Linked DNA regions of Homo sapiens. The protein of the gene in region 1 purifies or fractionates together with the protein of each later gene. This does not show direct contact. Each region holds a gene or a part of one and is shown on either strand. Other genes may lie near its edges.

Region 1 (3,684 bases):
AACCAAGGCGCCCGAGGTGAGGAGGATTTCAATGAGAGAAACTCATCACCGGCATCAGCTGAGCCGGCTTCTCCCGGTGCCCTGATTGTTCCAGGTGCCTGCGCATCCCCCCCACCCCCGCTCCCTCACCGGGAAGCCGAGGCCAGGCCGGGTGCCTCTGGCTAAGTGAGCGAAAGTGCCAAGGTTTGGGAACTGTTCTGGGTCTATTACCCGTTAACTCAGATGATAAGTTTATTCTCAGAGCTGCTCTAAGAGGCTACCCACTGAGCCCCCTCGGCGAGTGCATGGAGAACCACCCAGGGATCTTCATCTAGGCGAATTGTTTTCTCCCCTGGAGCGTGTCCCTTCCCCCAGTCCCAGTGGTGACCGGGAGGTACCGTTTTGTTCTGCTCCAGAGCGGTTCTGAAAAATTTCCCAACCAAATCATTCCTACAAAAGATAAATTGATTTGGGGTGTGTTTACATAAATGCAGAAGACCAGTCGAAAAGAACATGGCTTGTCCACTAGAAAAATGTTGATTATTCATTAATAAGTAGATACCAGATCAAGTAATCAAATACATTAATGTAACTTTTCTCTGATACTGGTTTGACAAATACTATATTTCCTTATTTAACTGACCTGTTTTGGAATTCTTCTGAATACAGGTCAAAATTCAACATTGTGAGGAATTTTAAGTAGAGCAAGCACACTTTTTTTTTTACAACAATTACATTAAACTCAATTATGCTTTACAAAGATAGCTTGTTTTTCCTCATAGTGCGCCAAAATTCTACATTTCCAAGACCCTGTTTTCTAATAGATTCTGTATTTGCAACAGTCATAGAAATTGGTGATGGTAAAAACTAAAAACCACATTTAATTCAGGCTTCACGTTAGCCATTCCAGGTGCAAATTATATTACAGCATTGATTTGTAATTTGTGACAACGTTTGGTTAATACACCAGTGAACCTTAAAAAGATCAGAATTGTTACATGTATGATGTGAACCAGTGTTATCTTTTATGTTAACCATGTGCACTACCACAGGCTATAAATATGAAGCAATATTTCAGCAAGATAGAAGCTCCTGTGTATCTCCACATTTAGAGAGAAGTCTGAGCGGTTTCCATCATTATTATATTTTCTGCTTTCACTGTGCCATAGGAAGTGTCTGCCATTTCCTCTTCTTTTAGTTTTTTATAAGAAATATCTGTATCTTCATCTTCATCTAGAGGATCTCGCTTGTGCAACATTTCACTTCCATACATTTTATAGATTAAAACAAAAATCCCCGCTTCTGCAGACTGGAAAAGTGCATACAGCAAAGGAAACATGTACATGCTTCCTATGAATTGCGGTGGAAAGGCCAGTTTTAGAATGGCTGTACAGAGCTGCACATTCTGACTACCTGTTTCCAGACATACAGTCCTCTTGCAGTTGGGTGGAAGATGGAAGAGAGTAGCTAAACCATAACCTGAAGCGTAGCCTGCCAAAGGCATAAAAATTGCTATCACATAAACAGCTGCAGGGATACTTGCCAGCAGTTCAGGTCCTAACATAGTGCCGGTCATTATGAAAAGGACCACCAGAGTCACTAGCAGAGACCACAGGGAAACCTAGTAATAGAAAATTACAATGAGATGGTTGAAGATGAACTCAGGCGAGAGAATCCTAAGCTCACGGAAGAAAACACCCATCTAGTATGCTCTCCAACACAAAATGGAGACCTTTGACAGAATATTTCTGAAGATGGGCAGGCCACCTCTTCAGGAAGCATCCAGAGCCACATTGGGCAGCTCTGATTGTTTGGAGGCCTGTCCTTATGTCCAGGGACAATTTGCCTTCTATAACCTCTAGCCATTGAGTTGGATATAGGCTCTCAGGAGCGACAGAGACCAGCTCTTCAAAAACAAAAAACAAACAAAAAAACCCAGCTTTTCTGGCCAGGCGCGGTGGCTCACACCTGTAATCCCAGCACTTTGGGAGGCTAAGGTGGGTGGATCATGAGGTCAGGAGTTGAAGACCAGGCTGGCCAAGATGGTGAAACACTGTCTCTACTAAAAATACAAAAATTAGCCAGGTGTGATGGTGAATGCCTGTAATCCCAGCTACTCGGGATGCTGAGGCAGAGAATTGCTTGAACCTGGGAGGTGGAGGTTGCAGTGAGCAGAGATCGCGCCACTGCACTCCAGCCTGGGTGACAGAGCAACACTCCATTTCACCAAAAAAAAAAAAAAAAAAAAAAAAAAAAAAAGCTCTTCAAAAAAAAATAGCCTTCAAAAGCTTTTTTCCTGAAAAACAGCTCTTCAAAAGCTTAAAAACTGGTTATCAGGGGAAGGCTACTCTTCTTCAGGCAGATCATCCCCAAACTTAAACCTCCATCACATAACTTTGTTTTGGTATCCTGACTGTTCTGAGAATGTGTTTCATATGTGAATGTGCCTCTTAAAAACAGGGCATTTAGAACTGAACCTAATACCCCAGGTATGGTCTGATCATCAGAGCAGACAAGTGGATGTTTACTTTCCCTGAACTGAACCCCGTGTTTTCCATAAGAAATTAGTTCTCATTTTACATGAGTTAAAACTTGTGAAACTTGATTAAAATGTCTGAAGCTCAGTGTGTGATCTTTTTAACCCTCAAAATATACTGCAGAGGATTGCTTGCAATATTGAAACAATTACCTACTCTTAGATTATGTAAGAGAGAAAAATGTAAATAAATATGTGAAGAATTCTTTGCAATTTGGCAACTTTCCCCTTTTTTATTTGTTCATGAGAAACCTCCCATCTATAAGTCTGTAATGATGCTTACGTATTATTACAATAGATGGATTTCGGATACAGTACAACTGACTTCTGTATAAAACGTGTCATCTTGATGTTCTGACTGGTACATTTCACTCATTCAAATAAAACAGTCTGTATGAATTGTAAGGCGGAAATCTAAAAATTCCTCTCCTCGTTCTCCTTCATATTGGTAGTTAACTTATTTTTTTTTAATGAGGAGTGGGCAGGGAAAGGAAACTAGAGCCAGAGAGAACAGCTTAAATGTTGCTTCTGGTTCCCTGGATAGCTGGGATATCCCTTTTGCAGTCTTCGGGAATGGCGTAACTCTACACTCTTAAAAAATTATTTAAAATTTATCTGAGCTGGTCACAAATTCTACCCTAGAGGATGCTGCAATAATTATTATATAAGGTACAGATACTACAGATGCATAATTGGCAGAAACCAGGCTATTACATGTAAAAGCATACCATTTCAAAGTATGTCACATTGAAAGCGCTGACAAACAGTCTGATTTCTTCATTTTGAAATATTGGCTCCAAAGTCCCTTAGAACTATTTTAAATCATTTGGGCAAGCATTGACATTGAATGCTCATTTTGAAGTGTTTGCAAAGGTGTAACAATTATATAAACCGTTTCTTAATAGTGTGTTAATTAAAGAATAGGGCTAGGTTAACCTTAAATTCAAAGGTAGCTAATCTTATGTCTATTATATTTAAATATTAAATATATTAATTTATTAATATATTTATTTTAAATATATTTCTTGTTTTGGGTGTGTAAATAGGTCATTTGATTGACTTTCTCTTAGACTTCCTAAGGTTTTATAGTAAATGCCATCACATTAATAGCATTAGCTTAATGATTAAGATTAACAAGTTCTTAATGCATCTCAAGAGTATCTATGAGT
Region 2 (3,500 bases), on another chromosome or scaffold:
GAACATACTCATTTTAGCCCGTGATCACATGCTCTGTAAATGTCTAGGTACAAGTCCATCTCCCCTCTAAGAGAGGACTCCGTGGCAAGGTCCACCTCCTAATCCCCAGCTCCTAACTCAGTCCCTGGCACAAAACAAATGCTGGAATGAGTGAATGAGGTGGTCACTTTTTCATTTCATAAATGTAGAAACTAGCCTCTTTGAGCTTCCTAGACCTCATTCAGCTATGGCAAGGGCTGAGTCTGCTGTCTCTGCCAGGAATGCCCAAGGCTGACTTGGGCTGAGAAATGAACTAGCAGGTGATGTTTGATACATGTGTGAACTTAAGTAGACGGTGATTTCCAGTCCTCAGATTCACATTCACTAAATCTGAATGAGTTCAACACCTCACAAGTAACAGCAACCTCCACTCTACCAACTAGTAACAACATGCCTGAAATCCCAAAGGGATGTCTCTGATATGGAAGAAAAGGACAACTCACTTTAGTTAAATATTTTCTAGGTGCTGTATGTTATCTCATGTGATCTTCTCAATAGCCCTGCAAGATAGAATTCCCCCATGGAACCCTTGTTCCTTAGAAATAAGATTCCTAGGCCAGGCACGGTGGCTCTCGCCTGTAATCCCAGCACTTTGGGAGGCCGAGGAGGGTGGATCACGAGGTCAGGAGTTCGAGACCAGCCCGGCCAACATAGTGAAACCCCGTCTCTACTAAAAATACAAAAATTAGCCAGGCATGGTGGTGTGCACCTGTAATCCCAGCTACTCAGGAGGCTGAGGCAGGAGAATTCGCTTGAACCTGGGAGGCGGAGGTTGCAATGAGCCGAGATCACACCACTGCACTCCAGCCTGGGCAACAGAGGGAGACTGTCTCAAAATAAAAAAGACTGGGCATGGTGGCTAATGCCTGTAATCCCAACACTTTGGGAGGCCGAGGTGGGCAGATCACGAGGTCAGGAGACCATCCTGGCTAACATGGTGAAACCCCGTCTTTATTAAAAATACAAAAAAAAAAAAAAAAAAGTTAGCCAGGCATGGTGGCACACATCTGTAATCCCAGCTACTCGGGAGGCTGAGGCAGAATCTCTTGAACTTGGGAGGTGGAGGTTGCAATGAGCCGAGATCGCGCCACTGCACTCCACCCTGGGCGACAGAGCTAGATTCTGTCTAAACAATAAATAAATAAATAACTTGAACCCGGGAGCAGAGACTGCAGTGAGCCAAGATCGTGCCACTGCACTCCACTCTGTCTCAAAAAAAAAAAAAAAAGGGGGGGCCAGGTGTGGTGGCTCACGCCTGTAATTCCAACACTTTGGGGGGCCAAGGTGGGCAGATCACGAGGTCAGGAGTTTGAGACCAGCCTGGCCAACATAGTGAAACCCCGTCTCTATCAAAAAATACAAAAAGTAGCCGGGCGTGGTGGTGGGTGCCTGTAATCCCAGCTACTCTGGAGGCTGAGGTAGGAGAATTGCTTGAATCCAGGAGGCAGAGGTTGCAGTGAGCCGAGATTGCACCACTGCACCCCAGCCTGAGCCACAGTGCAAGACTCCATTTCAACAACAACAAAAAAGAAGACTCCTGGCCGGGCGCAATGGCTCACACCTGTAATCCCAGCACTTCGGGAGGCCGAGGCGGGCAGATAACAAGGTCAGGAGATCGAGACCATCCTGGCTAATAAGGTGAAACCCTGTCTCTACTAAAAATACAAAACTTAGCTGGGCGCAGTGGCAGGCGCCTGTAGTCCCAGCTACTCGGGAGGCTGAGGCAGGAGAATGGCGTGAACCCGGGAGGCGGAGCTTGCAGTGAGCCGAGATTGCCCCACTGCACTCCAGCCTGGGCGACAGAGCGAGACTCCGTCTCAAAAAAAAAAAAGACTCCTAGCTGATCATGGTAATTCCAGAACTTCGGGAGACTGACACAGGCAGATCACTTGAGCCCAGGGGTTTGAGACCAGCCTGGGCAACATGGTGAAATCTTGTCTCTATTAAAAATACAAAAAAATTAGCCAGGCATGGTGGTGCGTGCCTGTAGTCCCAGCTACTCAGGAGTCTGAGGTGGGAGGACCCCTTCAGCCCGGGAAGTTGAGGCAGTGAGCCATGATCGCACCACTGCACAAGAAATAAGATTCCTATTAGATAATGTGTCCAACTAAAATCTACATCTTGGCTGGGCATGGTGGCTCACACCCATAATCCCAGCACTTTGGGAGGTCGAGGTGGGTGGACCACTTGAGGTCAGGAGCGTGAGACCAGCCTGGCCAACATGGAGAAACCCTGTCTCTCCTAAAAATACAAAAATTAGCTGGACATGGTGGCACATGCCTGTAGTCCCAGCTACTTGGGAGGCTGAGGCACAAGGCAAGCTCCCGGCTTGAAACCAGGAGGTGGAGGCTGCAGTGAGCTGAGATTGCGCTGCTGCACTCCAGCCTGGGCAACAGAAAACAGTGAGACTCCGTCTTAAAAAAACAGAAAGAAGGTGTGTCCTTTGATCTTTACATGGCTGGTTCCTTGTTGTCACTAAGCTGTCAGCTTACATGTCATCTCTTTGAAGATGCCCTGACCACACTCCCTGAAGTAGCTCTCTAATCCTTCTCTATCACCTAAATAATTTTTTTTTTCTTGAGACGGGATCTCACTCTGTTGCCCAGACTGGAGTACAGTGGCATGATCATGGCTCACTGCAGCCTTGATCTACCAAGATCAGGTGATTGTCCCACCTCAGCCTCCTGAGTAGCTGGGACCACAGATGAGCACCACTACGCCCAGCTAAATTTCTTAAATTTTATGTAGAGGCGGAGTCTCACTGCATTGCCCAGGCTGGTCTCAGACTCCTGAGCTCAAGCGGTCCTCTCGCCTTGGCCTCCCAAAGTGCTGGGATTACAGGTGTGACCCTTTATTGAATGTTTAATATATGGCAGGGTTTTTTACATTTACATTTATTATCTCATTTAATGTTCCCAACCAAACCCTCTGAGCTAAGTAATGGTACTGTCTTTTTTTTTTTTTTTTTTTTTTTTTTGAGACAGAGTCTCACTCTGTCACCCAGGGTGGAGTGCAGTGGCGCGATCTCGGCTCACTGCAACCTCCGCCTCCCAAGTTCAAGCAACTCTCCTGCCTCAGCCTCCTGAGTAGCTGGGACTGCAGGCATGAGCCACCACGCCCGGCTAATTTTTTGTATTTTTAGTAGAGACAGGGTTTCACCTTGTTAGCCAGGATGGTCTCCATCCGCCCGACTCGGCCTCCCAAATTGCTGGGATTACAGGCATGAGCCACAGTGCCCAGCCCTGTCCTCATTTTTGCACGAGGACACTGACATACAAAGAGGCCCAAGATGAGGTCTTGCAGCCACTAAGCAGCAAAGTCAGGATTCAAACCCAGGTCGGCCTGGCTCCACAGAATGAGTTTCCAAGCAGGCTACCTCACAGTTTGTGGGGGCTTGGTGGCTTCCCCCAACCATCATCACCCAGCCCCTCACCTTCATTACTGTGTTGTAGATGGAGATG

What was found. Proteins that work in one complex are often made in the same cells at the same time.
Region 2: the proteins of SLC10A4 (region 1) and KDELR3 purify together in Homo sapiens (affinity purification with mass spectrometry; one large-scale study listed by BioGRID and IntAct). This does not show direct contact.

Annotation. Positions count from the first base shown.
Region 1 is NC_000004.12:48,486,343-48,490,026, reverse strand, and holds the end of SLC10A4 (sodium/bile acid cotransporter 4), read right to left. Parts: intron 1,601-3,684; coding exon 1,088-1,600; 3' UTR 501-1,087; downstream 1-500. UniProt on the Homo sapiens protein: Transporter for bile acids.
Region 2 is NC_000022.11:38,474,596-38,478,095, reverse strand, and holds part of KDELR3 (ER lumen protein-retaining receptor 3), read right to left. Parts: coding exon 3,473-3,500; intron 1-3,472.